2 separate regions of the Homo sapiens genome follow, and region 2 is linked to region 1. Evidence: fine-mapped expression QTL. A gene starts in region 1. The other region holds a variant in brackets. All regions are shown on one strand. Distances are from middle to middle. Region 1 holds the start of HMBOX1 (homeobox containing 1). Region 2 overlaps HMBOX1 (homeobox containing 1).

Region 1 (8,338 bases):
TATATGAAGAAATTAGCCAGGCAAAAAAGAGTGAGGCAGGCAATGGAACATATTCAACCAAGTTAAGTGTAGGAGGTTATCCTAAGGGCAAAGGAAGATACTGAGAGGGTTTCATGGAACTCTGCAATTAAAACAACTTCCGGATGCAGAGGAAAGAATGAATTTGAGAGGGTTAAGACTGAATGCAGAGAGACCAGATAAGGGGTCTTGTTGAATTCCGATTACAAAGACAGTATTCTAGTTGGACTGGAGAGAAATAGAACCTATTTAAGAAAGCTGCATTTAGGAAGCAGAATCAATAAGAGGTGGTCATAGATTGTGTGTGGGAAGGGTACTCTGGAAAGTGAATCTCAAAAATGAGAAAATGCTAAACAAAATGTGTTTTTGTTTCATAATTATAAATTTAAAACACAGCCTATTACATATTTCTGAAGCAGTACACAAAATTAAAACTTTTAGGCCATGGGAGGACTTATTCCAACCATTTGGGAGGCATGACACACCCATCTAACTTACTGAGCAACAATGCTTTTGGTATGTTGATGGGAATTCTCAATTACATTTATCTATCAACTACCAAATAAATTTTAGTATGTAATACATAGTTGCAAAGTAAAGAGGGAGTATGAGTATCAATAGAATACTTCCTTTTCCTCTGAGACATCTTTGGTTCTTAATGGAAAAAATAATTTTCCACTTTTTTACAATCCCCGGTTTCATATTTCTAAATAAATTAAGCAGGAGGATTTTATGAGCAAACTAAAATATATGTAAAGTAAACCCTGGCTTTTTGATACCCTCACTAATGAGTTGTTATGGGAAAAACTATTTCACACTTCCCTGCCTTCTTAAACTGAACACATTAAATATAATTTGCTCTTTATTGAGAACACAGGGTCCATGCTTTAGCCAATAAGGTACCAAGCTCTTATGCTCCTATAAGCTGACCTCTTTCATGGAAGGCCCTGGCTTACTTATCCTTATCAGTTCAAGAGTCACGTTTCCAGGAAGCTGTCCCCTGACCTCCCCAATCCTCTGTTCTCTGAATTCCCAAAACCCTGAACACGCCTCTATTTCACCATGAACACAGTGAATTATAATTTCGGACCAGGCATGGTGGCTCATGCCTGTAATTCCAGCACTTTGGAAGGTTGAGGTGGGCAGATACCTTGAACCCAGGAGTTTGAGACCAGCCTGGGCAACATGGTTAAACCCCATTTCTACAAAAAAAATAAGCAGGGTGCAGTGGTGCGCGCCTGTATTCCCAGCTATATGGGGAGACTGACGCGGCGAGAGGATCGCTTGAGTCCGAAAGGTGGAGGTAGCAGCGAGCTGAGAACGCGCCACTGCACTTCAGTCTGGGCCCCACAAAGCCAGACCCTGTCTCTAAATAAATAAATAATAACTTTGGTTTACTTTTCTATCTTCTTCTTAGGTTGCATGCTTCTGTAGGGCAACGGCTATGACTTTTAATTCTGCATTATTAAATGTGTAACACACTGACCCAGGGGTAAGTTGCTATTCTCAAGGTTTAGTGACCCGCATCCTTCCCCTTATATAAACAGATTTATACGGGGACAATTTCGGAATTGAATCCACTTTTAATACTTTCTCTGACTTCGCAGAAAACAGCTGGCTTTGCAGAATATATGCCTGTAGCACAATGATTATCAAGATGAGGGTAGGTGTGTTGTGTGGTTTGGCAAAGCATGTTCAGATAATTATATAAATGGTAAAAAATAAACTTTTTTTTTTTTTGAGACAGAGTCTCGCGCTGTTGCAAGGCTGGAGTGCAGTGGCGCGATCTTGGCTTACTGCAACCTCTGCCTCCCGGGTTCAAGCGATTCTCCTGCCTCAAGTAAAGCTTGACAATAACTTGGCTGCACAAATATGGGTTTTAAAAGGTTGAGAAACAGTGTTTCACACCTGCCTTTCTACACTATGTTATTAACTAATTGAATCGAGTTGGAATAAACTAGTTAGACTTGTGTGCACAATGAGTCAAATGGCTCAAATCAAAGGTCTGAGGAGCCTCCATGAACCAGGTGCTTGAGCTGTGTGATGTTAAGACTTCAGGTATACCGAGCACGCTTCATTCAGCCTTGGCTCATGAAGTCCCTACAGTCTTAGAATGGAATACCATATAACACTTCTCTGCCCATCTAAATCCCATGCAGGGTTTAAGACTCAACTTCTCCACACTCTGACCTCGTCCTGAATTCCAAGGGCAGTGAGGAGTCTATATAACAGGATATTTAATAAGTGATTACGTTCTGCTGGATGTTTTTTACTGTCTGCTTAAATCTAGCCAGTCTCAACAACAGTAGGGAGACAGGATACTCAAGCGCCAATCGAATGGAAACGGATTGTTAACAGCCTATTATAACCCTCACGTGGGAACCAGGACGTCCAAACCTGGTTAACAGAGCCCACAGAGTTCATGGGCGAAGGACTGTGACAGTCAACCTCTTGTCTGAACAAAAAGACCCACTAACGAGTGAAAAAAGACCTCCTGGGAGGGATGGGGTGGGGGAGAGGGAATTCAAACCTTCTCAACAACAAAAAGCAGCTTTCCTTAGCCCACTCCACTTTCCAGCTCAATAATTGCTACCCCTCCCGTGCGACGATTCCCTGCCCAACGTAGGAAAAAAAGAGGTCCAAAAGGTTATAGCATCACCTTTGCCCTCTGACCTAGGAGCGAAGACTCACCAGTTTCATAATGGACTTTTGGTGGTTCAATAGCAGTCACTGAACTCCTCAAACCCAGGAAGCGTCTTCCGGTGCAATCTCCGCCACCTGCCAGCCGAGAGCATCGCGGGACTTGCAGTCTTTCATCCTCACGTCCCTTCCAGGGGAATAATGGGAAATGTAGTCTCCCCTCCAGGCATCATGGGAACTGTGGTCGCCTTTCCTTTTCCTCCCTTTCCTCTCCGAACGCCTCCTTCCGTCAGCTCAAATTCATCCCAGCCGCCAATGCATCCTCCCTCTCCACCCCAGCATGATATCATGTCTTCCTTACGGGCCTGGGGCCCATGGTGTTCTGGGATGTGTAGTCCCGACGGCTCCGACTCCCCTTTCCCTCCTCCCAAAGGGAAGGCGGATGGGCACGGGGCTTGCCGGAAGTTGTAGTTCCCTTGGCCCTCTAGGCGCCGGGCTCCGCAATTTTTCTCAGGGGAGGCAGGAACTACAACTCCCAGGGACGCCCGGCGGCAGCAGGTGGGAGAGGGGCTGTTGATATCAATATGGCGGTTGTCAGCCAGACAAAGACAGTCAGTCTGATGTGATTGAGACAAGGGAGGTTTTTCAGGGGGAGACTGGGAGATAGGGGCCTCCCCTCCCCCTTCTCCTCTTCCTGCGCCGGCCTCAACCCCTCCCCAGTCCCCTCCCGACGGGCGCCCCACGCGGAAGACACCCCTCCCCCTCCCGCCTTCCCTCCTCCCTATCTCAGCCCTTCGTACTGGGACGTTGGGGAGGGGGCTGTGCCGGGCGGAGAGAACTCAGCGAGGATTCTGAGGTGAGTCGAGCGGTTTTGAAGCCGGACTACCTCAAGTCTCTTTCCTCACTTCTTTCTCTTCACTTAAAACAATTTTTTTGGAGGGGTTTTGGGGAGGAAGTGAGCGGACGCTGGGGATGGGTCTCGTAAGCGGCCGGATTGAGAGGAGGGAGGAAGCAGGGGGCTTCCGAGTGGGTGACCCAGACGCGGGCTGTGGGGTGGGGCAGTTCGTGGGGTCCGGTCCTGGAAAGGCGTCGACTGCCCCCCAACTCTTCTGGTTTCCTCTACGATGAGCGGAAGGTTTGAATCCTGGAGGTGGGGTCTCCGGTGTGGAGTTCTGGAAACTGTGAGGTGATTTGCAGGTGTGTTGGTTTGTTTGGGGTGTGTAAGTGTGTTTAAACTGTGTGACGTGTACTTGTGTGCTCTGCTCGTCTTGGAGCGGTGTCTGTAGATGGGAAGTTAGACAGCGCGAGTCCTCGCTCGCTCTGGGCCTGGGCTGAGGGGCGGGCGTGAGGTCCTGGTGCTGGGCGTTTGGGCTGGCGACGTGGTGCGAGGCGGCCGGGCTCAACAACTCGCTTGTGTCCCGTCGCCCGCTCACACTCTGCCACTCGCCTCCGCCCCCTCCCCTGGACGAATCTCCACCCCAAACTCCAGCCACGAGAACTGTAGAGATGGTGTGATGTGGAGATGGATTTTTTGCATCCTCAAGTCGGTAGATAGGTGGGAAAGGAAAAGTGTTTCTTAATATTTTATTCCGGAACCGTGTTTTGGTTACACTATTGGGGCTACTTTGAAAGGCGTCCTCCACCCACCTTCACCCCGAAACAGTAGGTAGAGGTATCTTGTCTTCGTGTGAATTAGATGAATAATTGCTGAAGATTCGGGGGGCCTGGGGTGGGGGTCGGGAGTGCTGGATTGTGTACGCGTCTGTGTGTGTCTACTAAGGAGACGGAATGTCTGTTATGTATCTGGAGATAGGGCGACTTATTTTCGTAGCAGGAGGAACTGTTGGAAATTATTTGCGGGAGAGGGGGTGCGCCGAAAGGCGCTGCTTGTATTTTTCTTCTACTCCACCCTGTTCTGTCTTGCATTTGCCTGAAAGCTGGTGGAATGGAACAGTGAAGAAGCATTGGGTGAGTAAAGGGAAGAATGCAGTTGGCATTAAAGATAACACTATGTAAAGTTGAATGGTATAAAGTGATTACTGTTTTTATTTACGCTGAAGCTTAAAAAAAATCACCCATGTATCATATAAGGTAGAGTGATGTGACTAGCTCATTTCTCTGGTATCCTGCAGGTACAGAAACCTCTGGCTTCCCTCTTCCTTCCTTCCTATCCTCCCTCCTTCCTTCCTTCCTTAAGTCCTTCCTTTCTTTCTTGGCTTCGTACAACATTTCTCTTTCTGTTGGACATAATACCGCCTGTGTCTTTTTATTTAGTTTGTGCTAATATGGTTGTGCTTTTTGTGGTTTTACCATAAAATGCATCGTTAAATGCATTTATTATTTTGCATTTATGCTGCAGGTAATTATCACATCAGGATTGCAGTGCTTTGCATTAAACTTATTTTAAAATTGTGCAATTAAGTTGCTTGATCTAGCTGAATTATGTTTCTAAGTCAAAGTTGGGAAATTTGAATTCTAAATTTTTTTTCAAATTTCAATTAGAGTTAAAAAGGAAAGGATTGCAACATCTCTTATTTCTCACAGTTTTTAATATTTAATAACACACTAGGAGAATTTAAGGTCATATTTTGTACTTCCTTATTAAGTTCTTCAATAATCCTTATGTGACAATTTTTTTAGTGTAACGGATTTTTAAAGTAAAGAAATTGGCATAATTTCTATTTCGACTGTTGAGAATTGAATATATTCCCCAAACTTATCAATTCTTGAATCTGCCACCTATCATCAGTAAGGGACCTTTAGATTCTATGATAACTGAAAACCACATTGATAGAGTGTGTAATTTTATGATATGTCCTCTAACCATTGATTTAAAATTTTTGCTGTTGGTCATTCACACAGATAAGGGGGACTGAAAGAGTGAGGTAGCATGTATATTTCAATTGACCTGAATAGAAAAAAAAATGTGATTTCTAAATCTCAGATGTAGAATATACAATATGTTGATTCAAAACTAAGCCATTAGTTTGTGATAGACCAGGATTTTCAGAATCATTTGTTTTAAGCTTGTATCTTAACTTGAAACACTACTTTGCAAAAACCAGAGAAAAATCCTACGTAACTACTTAACGGAGTGTTTTGTTTTATTTTTCTGAAGCATATTATAATAGTCATGGAGTTTTTTAAAAAATGTTTAATAATTATTTTAGAAGTAAAAAACCAACATGTTTGTTAATATTTTAAATTGGAAAAACACGAGTGTTTTCTCTTCCATCTACCCTTACCTCAAAATTTCTTTTTGTTTTGTCTATAGAAGTGCAAAGTTATTTACTTGAAAAAGCATTCATTAAACTTTTTCTGGCTACTAGTGGGATCAAAATCATTACATGTAAACCAAATATATTCCCAGCATTTGTTGGGGGTGATTCTGTTGCATTTTAAGTACTGGGCATTAAAATGATGTAAAGCCTTTACTGCAGGTTAAAGCATAAAACATTCTCAGCATGTGAGAGTCATATGGTTTACAAATAAAGTAGAAAACCAGGGCATGGGTGCTTGTCCAGCTTACAATTTCATCCCGTAACTGTGAAAGACACATTTATTTTAATGTGATTGCTTCTAAAGATGTTGCCTGTATTATGGGAAGTTGAAAATCTAAGCTGCTTTTAACTAATCTGTTGCTAGTTTAGTTTACTGCATTTAGTGAACACTATGTATGGTCACAAATACGCATCAAGGAAAGGAGCCTTTAGCTGGAAGTTGAATGCCTTTAGTGAGGCTTCGTTTTCACTGCTGTACAAACAGATTTCAGTCTTCTAGCCCAAATCCTCAGTTAAAACATCGCTAATAGAAACTTAATAGCTCAGTGTTCCTAAGTTACAAAATATGTGGCAACAAATCTGTCATTGTTACATCATTTAAAAAATAGCAACCAGCTTATGGCAATTTTTGTGGCAAGTGTTGATTGGAATTCTATTGCTTGTTTCATAGATATTGAATACATTGGGAATATTTAGGCTTAATTTGTGTATTTTGAGTCTCCTGTACACTGTATTCAGCACATCCCACATTTAGGGCTCCCGTGCAATTTAGTTCTGTTCATTTCATTGTAGCTCTTGCTTCTCTTATTTTTGTATACAGCTCTTTAAACCTGAATTATTTCTCTTGGGAATCAGGTATTTATGTAGAATGTTGTCATAAGTGAAAGTTGGCATACCACTCAACTTTTTAAATACATGAACATTTATAGATAAACCGAATAGTGCTCATTGAAAATGTGTTGGTTTTGTTTGTTTTGTGAACCAGCTTTATTTAGTTCTTTGGCTTCTGGAATTAATTTTGTAGCTCACTTTGCTATTCTTTGGCTAGATTTTTCTGTTAACAGTTGGCTTTTACTTCCCACTGTAGTAGAACTGTAATTTATTAAAGCATTGTTGTGAGTGAAAAGCATGGCTTGTCTAGAGTGCCATATATGTACACCCACAATACACTCATACATAAAATACTTTTATGTTTATTTATTTATTTATGAAATTGGTGTATATCTATCAGACATGCCTCCCATAAGAAAGAATCTGAGCCACAAATAGCAGAAGACCTTGAACTTTGACTGAAGCTAGAAACCAAAGAGTAACCAGCACATGTTGTCCACATTATAGAAGCTGAGGAGATTTTCATTATCATTCCAAACCATTATTTTCACAGATTTTGTTAAAATACAGTTCTCTCAAAATGGAAGCTATTGATATTGAAAGTTTTCTCAAAATATTAGTAAGTAAGACGTAGCATGGATTCCTAGGTGCAGCTATTCCCCCACATTGCCCTTACTGGATTTAGGGCCCATCATAGGCGCAGAGTAAAGATTTTTCCATGGGATTATTTGATGTAAACTTTTAGTTGCAGTGTATTCAAACATAATCCAGTGCTTTAGATAATTTGTTTTCCTTGACCTTAGATGAAACAAGTTGGAAATTTACTATAACATTGTTTTGGACACTTTCCAAGAGCATTTAGCTCCTGGAAGGGCCCTGGCTTTAGCATGGTTTTTACCCTTATAGTGGTAATAAAGTTGAAGTTACATTAAGTTTTTCCAGTGATTAGTGTAATCTTAATGCAATATTTGACAGATTCTTAGGCTATAGTTTTTTTTTAACATTTGCAAAAAAAAAAAACAGTAACAATAGTCTGATTTTAGCTTTGAAGTGATCAATTATTTTAACTTTTTCACCCTTAAAATGGGTGACACTAGACTCCTTCCTGTTAAGTGGTAAAATGATTCTAATCCAGTCAAAGGGCACTTAGGTTTTTCTTAAATTTAGAGTGTGGATTGTGATAAAAATGTTGACTAAATTCCACATGCTGAGTATGTATTCTCTCTGGCTGCTTCTTTGTTTATCTTATGTCCAGAGATGGTCCACATGTGGTGTATTGAAAATATTAGTAGCCTCATTACTGTATACGTATTAAGTAGCGTGGAGTTGCCAAGTGGCAGTAACTTTAATTTGTATCTAGTCACAATTTTTATAGCAAGAAAGTGAAATGCTGTGGGTACTGCTGAAACAGGGATGACTTAAGACTGAATTGTTCTGCTTTAAGATTTTGATAATATAGGCCAGGCATGGTGGCTCATGCCTGTCATCCCAACACTTTGGGAGGCTGAGGTGGGCAGATCACCTAAGGTCAGGAATTCGAGACCAGTCTGGCCAACATGGCGAAACCT
Region 2 (8,338 bases), 160 kb after region 1:
TCCTAACTTCTAAGCCTAACAAAAGTTGCCCTAATGTCTTTCATTGTGTTTTTAATAAACCACAGTTAGTATTATTTACACTATTTGTAGTGTAATGGTAATGACATTATTATTTATAAAACTCATTCTTCTTAAAGTTCTAGAATATAGAATTAGACATGGCCCCTGAGCAATTGATTACTCCTGTGGTACATTTGAAAGATACTTGTAAGATCTTGAGAAAGGGAATGTAATACCCAGAATTTCTTCATTATTACTGGACTATGACTTAAATATTAGGAAACAATTGATTAATGGTTTGGAATGAAAGAGACTTAATAGACAAGGAACGCAGCAAAAGGCAGAGATAAAGAGCATTTAAGAAATATGGATTCTTGATGTAATCATTTATGTATATATACACATATCAAAACATCACCTTGTACACCATAAATATATACAATTTTTATTAATTATATTTCAATAAAGCTGAACAGAGAAAACAAAAATGCCAAAAGTGCCCTAGAGGGAACTACGAATACAACTGAAAAAGGAAGAAATAAAGGATTTGTTCCCATTCAAAACTGTAACAGTAATAAATAAGAATAAGAAATTTAAGTTGGTGAGTCAGGTGGGATGTTGGTTTTTAGCTTCTAAAATTGCATTTCATTTCTTCCATCCAAGTACTAACCAGGCCTGACCCTGCTTAGCTTCCAAGATCAGACGAGATCGGGCGCATTGAGCGTGGTATGGGCATAGAATGCATTTCATTTCCTTCCTTTGTAAATACACTTTTTATTCATCAGTACAGTTCTCATATGCTCTATAGAACCCCAAGATAGGAAGACTGTTTAGTTAGTTAGCAAGTATTTATGAAGCACCTAACATGCACAGCAGCAGAGACCCCAGAATGGCAAATGTGTGCCTCCCCTGACCTACATGCAGTTGAATTTCATCCATCTTACAGTCTAAAAGAAACAAATGTAGAGAAATACAGGTTCTTGTTTAATTACATTCTAATTAATTTCCTTAGCACAAAAATTCATTCAGTGTTTCAGCCATTGTGATAAGGTAACAGATAATTTAGGGATCTATTTGCTTTTTTCGAAGAAGCAGCAATCCTGGAGAGTCATGGGATAGATGTGCAGAGTCCAGGAGGCCACTCAAACAGTGATGATGTCGACGGGAATGACTACTCTGAGCAGGTGAGCCCCTGCGCAGCTGGGCGAGGTTCTTGGTGCCTGAGCAGGGGGTATAGTGGGACAGCTTAGTTCCTTGGGTGTGGCTGATGGGGTGGGGGAGGGGAAACAGTCACTGTCCCTCCACTCTGCTCCTGTGTCTAGTTAGATTTCATGTAATTTGAAAGGAATGTGGTAAGATTCAGTTGTCCTGTTGAATTTGTGAGAGATCGTTATTCACCCACATGGATTTATTGTCATACAACAGGATACTTGGCAAGTACGCAATGGGGAGGAGGAGGAGGGAAGAAGTTCAGAGGGAGGCAGAGAAGCAGAGAAGGTAGAAGAAGAGAGGAGGATCTGATCCAAACAAGCAAGTTACACCATTCACGACACACACTCAGTGTTTGAGAAATACTAGGGGCAGCTGGACCCCATGCCTAAACACGTACCGACGCAGGGCACGATGGAAGGCCCCACTCACTCTGGCCCCACTGCAGTGGGAACCCTCCTGCCCAAAGGAGTGGTTCTTCCAGAGTCTCTGGCACACTGACACATGCATCCTCTCATAAGTGCAATACCTGCATGACTCTTCACCTCGCCCTGATTTATTCTGCATTGCTTTTGGGGAAAATGTATTTAATTGTAGCCACTGCGTGGAGTAATTCAGTAACTAAGACTGTGGGAGTCCCTCCTCGACCCCCACATAGATGTTGACAGATTTCATTAAAATTTTGATAGGATTTAAATTTCCATTTGGAATATGCAGAGAACGCATGGTACCTTCCCCTAGACCACAGCAAGAAAACTTCTGCTCATTTTTCTGGGGTCTGTGCTTTTTTCTTGCTCCTCAGCCAGCTCATATAGTCCAATGTGTTCTTTAATAGCCTCTGTTTACCACACACCTAGAATGCATGCAAGTGTGTGCTGATCCCTTTGTAAATTCTAAAAACTAATCTGTGAACATCAGAAGGAAACAATGATGTCCACACTTCTGAAGAACTACCATTTTTTCCCATTTAGGACTCTAGTTAATAGCCCCAAGAGAATATTCTGTAAGTCTTTCTGTTCGGAAACATTCCTCTTTTCAGTCTACCCACATAGATGGATCATTTCCATCTTTTTTTACAGATGCCCTAAGGGCAGCACATTCCATGTTTTGTTTGTTTTTTTCCTTAAGGGACTTACCCTTTCCAAAGCTCTTTGATACGGAGTTCCCCTGAAGATGACAGGTGAGAAACATACCCCTTATTTGTAACACCATCTTCAGTGCCTGACGTACATCCTGCAATGCCAGCTTCCTTCACAGCTTTATTGTTTAACACATTGAGCTGCGCGGGGAGGACAGCTTCACACTAGTTCTAGGTAAGACGCCTGCCGCTCCCCTTGCACAGCTGCCTGCAGCAGGAGAGCTCGACACCTTCCTCCCCTTTCTCCCGTAGCCGTTTCTGGCAGTGACATGTGTCCTGTTGTAATGGAGAATTCTTTTTTTCTTTTTTTACAAAAATGCATTTTTTATCTGTAAGATGTAATTGTAAGTTCTGTCTAGTTTTCTCAGTTCAGAGAGGGACCATGAATTCTAATAATCTATTTGTAAGAGCAGCAATCTGGAATTTAATAGCTCACTAGTATGGCCTTCAGTGATTAGTGCTATATTTGTTACAAACAGAAAGATCCAAATTGTTGGTTTTATATCAATCACTGCAGGTTTGATCATCATCACCAGCAATCTTATTAATAGAATGAATAGAATTCTCAGTGATGAAAAACATTTTTTGTGCTTTTTACTTGTTGAATCATAAGATTATCAACTGAAAATCTTTGGACCTATATCCATTCAGTGTCTACTTAAATACAATTTACCTCTATTTTATCATGAGCCCCTCCCCCAGTTTCCTCCCACGAATGTTCTGCCTCCCCTTGCCCCAGCATGTCTCTCTGTGACTAAAGAATTCTTCCAATCCACTAATAACATTTCTTATTTCTGCACATCTAGGATGACAGTACGAGCCATAGTGACCACCAAGACCCCATCTCATTAGCTGTGGAAATGGCAGCAGTCAACCACACTATCTTGGCATTGGCCCGACAAGGAGCCAACGAAATCAAGACAGAGGCCCTGGATGATGACTGATCAGGGAGGTTAAACATGACAAGTTAACTTAGTTTAGACGTAGCACCTTAGCAGACTTTCCTCGGTCCTTAACATGTGTTCTTACAGTATAACTTGCAGTTTCTTGTATGTCAGGTAGCTGTTAGGGTCTTGTTCTGTGAAGATGGCATGGTGCCCTCAGCCTTTGCATATACTCTCTCAGTATTAACTCCCAGTAAATAATAACCAACCAACCAACCAAACTTCCCTCTCCCAGCCCCCGAGGCTAGAAAATCTTGCTGCTCCGTCTTAGCATTCCAAGAAAGTGCTTCCAGGTATTTAGATAGCCCTCAGTTCTCAAATATTAGACTACGTGTAAAATCTTGGGTACCTTTAGATTCTTGTAACACTAGTCTGTACTCCCTTTTCCTTCCCCAAGACTGATAGGATGCAAGCTGAGGTCGTGGCACAGGAATGACAGACACCATTTGGGGAGTATCCACAGAGTCAAAGGAACACTAGAATCCCCACCTCAGCGTGAGGATAATTGATTTCCAGCTGCAATAAGCCGTGCCTCATTATAGCCACACTGTGGCTAGATTATACTTCTTTGGGTGCTGTGCTAAGAATGTCAATGGAAAAAGCCGATCTCAGATTTTGTTTGAAGTTAACATGCCTGACACAGACATCCTTTCCTCTCACAAGCTGTGTGACTTAGTAGATAAAATACTGCCTTCTGCCTTTGGGACCATGATTAAAAACAAAGACAAAAACCAAAAGTCAT[T/TA]AAAAAAAAAAAAAAAAAAAACCCAGCTTGAGAGCATTGGAAAAAAAAAATATGAGCTGAATGTCTAATGGATGCTAAGTCCAGTTTTCAGAACCACTGTACATTCCACGGCACAGTTAGCAGTGCCTGCCTGGAAAAGTTTTGGAGGTCATCGTGGAAGTTGCTTTGCCTCCTGTCAGTGTCCCCTTTCCCTGCTACCAAAAAAGTCTTTCAAGGATGGAGCTAAGGTCAAAAATGAGTGAAAAAACTTGCAGTGTTTGTATCCATTAAACGGAAGCCCCCTCACTCTGAGAGGTCACTAGAGGACTTCATAGTGGGGTTGTGCTGCTTATCACAGATGCAGACACTTGCCCAGATAGGAGCAGAGAAAAGCAGGGGACGTTTCCTACTCACATTGTGGCTGTATGAGAACACGATGGGACTGCTTTGCTGTTCTCTTTACTCTGTCCTTGGAGAGGTGTGAAAAGCTGTATTGCTACAGGCAATTTATTTAATAATTGGAAGCCATATTGATAATGGATGTGGTAATATTTGTAAAGTTTAATCTACTTTAAGCGGCAGTAACTAATGGAATTTTTTTCCTTGATCACATATGTAGCACTTTTGTTACTTTTTAAAGATATTTATATTTGATAAATCTTTTTTTCATTTTGAGAACTCAAAATACCAAACAGTGAACTTGCATTCTAAAGTCACCCTGTGATCACCTTGTCATCTAGTAGCAAAATGATGAACTATTCATGCATCAAAGAAAATTACATCTGCTGGCCTTGTATGAAAATGATCTCTTGGCATCCCGATTAAATGACACACTGTCACTGTGGGTAAGAGGAAAGAGCCTTCAATGTAGCAGCACAGGGTGCGCCTGAAAGAGGCACAACTGCTGTGGATTTTCTGCCTCGCTCCATCTCTCCTATGTATAATGAAGCCTTGTTTAAAGGGGCATGTGGGGCTGGATGTTAAGCACGGCTTCTTTTTGTCCGTTACCTGAAAACAATTTCTAAGATAAAAGGAAGGTGCCATTTCCTTACCTCTTCACCCATCCTCCTCCACCAAATGTATTCAACTTAAAACTGTGAGAGAGAGAGACTGAATGACCTTCCTCAGTTTTCCCTTTCTCATTCAGGAGATACTGAATATCCGCCAGTTTGTAGTTGGTTTCCTTCCACTTAAGGCACACGCTGACTGCATCATTTCCTTATCTGTTAATCCTGCTTATGTGAGTGTGAGGAAAGTCTTTGAGAGGGCATGAAAGTGCCACCTTATATATGTCTGTGACTTTAAAGAGCTATATGCAGGGCCTGGTCCCACTTTTGTCCATGGATTTCAGGGGGAAAAAATATATGTACTTTTTTCAGCTTCCAAGCATTGAAGTGAAGTGGAGCCGTCTCTTCTGTTTTACTGTATTACTTGAACCAACAAATTCAAGAGTAGCATTTGTTATTCTCAGGAATGAGCCTCCCACCGCCCCCCCCCCACCGACTCATATTCTTTTTTGGTTTATCTTTTTATTTCAATTAGGAGATTACGTTCTCTTCCTTTCCTTTTATTTTGCTTAGAGGAAATGTAACATAGTCCCATTTTTGTGGAATTTTGACGCTTATTCTCAATTGAATCAGAAAGTACAAGGAGACAGAGAAAAAATCCGCTCTGACAAGCCACATCCATGATTGATTGTAAGGGGATTATTATAATTGATAGCTTCTTTATCATGGGATTGCTAGTATCATTTGTACTTGCTGGTCTTTTTAAAGGAACAGACTGACTCAAACTGTTAAGACAGCTGCAGTTTCTAAAGAAATACAAAGATTGCCGTGGATGCACTCAAAGGTTTCATTGTTTTAACACCTTTAAGGGAGAAAAAAAGCTTCAGAGAATAAAGGCAAGTTCGCATCCATGAAGGGCAGTACCAGACCCTATATGGCAATGTGGTAAAACTGAAAGAATATTTCTACCACTGCAGGAGAATGTCCTGGAGAGCTCAGTGGGAACAGGAGGAAGGCATCTTCCACCCACAGTTGTTCTTGTCATTGGAGAAGACCGCTGGCTGCTCTGAAGACCCACTGCCTTACATGTCACTTTTGCTTTTTCACCAAGAGTGAGAATTTACTTCCTTTGGGCCTAGATTTAAACCTGTTAGTTTTCTGTTTGTCACCAAGTTCAATTCTGCCATTTTGTCCAGGCCACCTTGGTTCTTGTAATGGTGTGTGGCGCTGCTACTGTTATATTTATTTCTAGTGTCTTTAGGTAGTATATTTCTCTCTTAGGCTTTTTCAGGTTTTAGAGGTGGAATTAAAATAGAAACCCTAAACTTCCGTATTACTGAAGGGAAAGCAGCCAGGCTCTAAAAACTCACACTGTATGCTTCTTGGTTGTTCCGCCCCTCCCGTTGTACTTCACTCTCTCCTTCAGGCCCCAGGGGACTCCCGCAGGGGCTGTTCCTTCCTGTCGAGGAGGACTTTCAAAGGTCTTTTGAAGTGGGGTGTGGGGGAACTTGCCAACAGGTATTCATATAATTTGTTATTTCTTTAAAGACACCTTAATTGAATTACTATGGTCAGATGGGTAAACTTTCCAAACTTTAAAAGCACTGACACAGGGACCTTTTAAAATGGGTCATCTTGATGAGATCTCTGCCCATCTGTTGATAACCCTAACAGTGGATGAAGGCTGGGGAGGGCAACACCCTGCATTCTTATCTGAGCCCTTCAGTGCTATTCAGTTCCAAATGTTTTGATTTGTTTCAACAAAGTCTGTAATGTTGGAGTGCCCTTAGAGCAATTTTCTTCACAATCAAAATCACAATCCTTTAAGTGGTTAATAAATGTAGTTGCCTTCCACTCACTTATGACTCTGGACAGTCCCCACCCCTGTCACTCACAAGGGCAGTCTTCCCACCCCACCCCCATATTCACATTCCCATGGCCCATCACAGGAAGAAGGAACCTGGGGCAGAGACGAGGAAAATCATTAAGGCAGAGGTGTACACATCCAGTTCTCTAGTTCTTGGTAGATTTATGGTGGCAGCCAGTTCAGTGGTCACCACCACCTATGTTAGGTCCATGTATCCAGATATATTTTACCTCAAAGGAGATGACTGAAGAATTCACCAATATAGTTATTATTTCCTTTCTGCCTGTTTAACATTTGTCTTTAAGAAATATTGGCTTTAGAAACTTCTCCCTTGGATATCAACCATCAGGCACCAAGTACAAACAGACTCATTGAATCAAGAGTCTCCAGCCTCATCCTGTGAATAGCTCCTCTTCTGTTTCCCTCTGACTAGGCCTTCAGCTGACTTCTTTGCTGGAATTTTCTAATCTTGTGACAGCAGGGAAAAGCTGGATGTGGTCCATCTCTTAACACAGACACTCCTCCCTGTCTTGACCAGCTACGTATTCCACTGACCAGCCTCATCATCTCTGCCCTCAACAGTGGAAATGATCTCTTTCCCACAGATGTTCTCCCTCCCTCCTTCCTTCCCTTCCCCTTCCTACAAACGTGAACTCTTAAGTCTTTACTCTCTGGTCTTCAGAAGGGTTTGGTTACAAGCAGTCTTCCCATTTAATTTGTGGCTCTGCCTTTTAAAATTGTTTTTTGTCTTTTGTTGTTCAGAGAACGACCAGAGTATTTTCTCCCCAGTGTGTCCCAACAGATTCTTAGGCAATAATTTTTCTTGTTGATGATCCCGTGCTCAGTAGCACACTACATTGAAGAACCCTGGCCCTCACCATTGTGTGTTGGTTTCTGTGTTAATCTCTGTGATCTGAATCATGTCAGAGTGATGATAGATTTTGTCATTTTGTTGTGATTATTAGTAATGTTTTACTACTGTATTCATTGGGGCTGTGTTGAGACCAGCCAAATCCATTTATAGCTTTACTGAGCCGGATTGATTTGTCAGGATTTCCCAAGTGAAAGTTGGGCATATTGCCCAGCTCCTGCTGGTGGTATCTTTGGGGAGTGTGGGATGGGGTGGGGGGATGTCCTGGGGCAGGGGTGGGAATGACACATATAAGGCATTCCATTTTTTTTTTTTTTTTTTTTTTTTGCTTGTGCTTATTAAATAGCAAGGGTGTTTACTCAGGATTTGGGGATCAGTTGTAGCCATGTTGAATTTGGCAAACTGAGCTGTGTGCCCTGAAAGCCCTCTTTTTATTTCTTCATTTCCATATTGTCTGACTTACTTCACCTAGGAATACCTGAGTTATCCAGTCCAGTGTTCCCTGATGAGAGTGGAAGATTTTCCTGGAGAGGCAGCTGTGCATGGCCAGGTCATCTGTCAGGATGTTGTGGTGGTGTGTG

The links. PIP is the estimated chance that this variant, and not a neighbour inherited with it, causes the effect.
Region 2: its variant is fine-mapped to the expression of HMBOX1 in whole blood (INTERVAL, PIP above 0.99).

Annotation. Positions count from the first base shown.
Region 1 is chr8:28,887,165-28,895,502 of GRCh38, forward strand. HMBOX1 (homeobox containing 1) reads left to right here and starts at 3,231. Exons shown (of 10, transcript NM_001135726.3): 1 at 3,231-3,514. It overlaps INTS9 (integrator complex subunit 9), which reads right to left and starts at 2,805. Exons shown (of 17, transcript NM_018250.4): 1 at 2,710-2,805. The coding sequence starts at 2,718. RefSeq lists enhancers at 2,588-3,144, 2,784-2,983, 3,145-3,701 and a silencer at 3,354-3,473.
Region 2 is chr8:29,047,865-29,056,202 of GRCh38, forward strand. HMBOX1 (homeobox containing 1) reads left to right here. Exons shown (of 10, transcript NM_001135726.3): 9 at 1,090-1,184; 10 at 3,154-5,398. The coding sequence ends at 3,291. It also overlaps the pseudogene RNA5SP260. Among named protein-coding and RNA genes, the nearest start is that of HMBOX1, 160 kb to the left of the region's middle. The variant T/TA (reference allele first, on the strand shown) is at 4,034.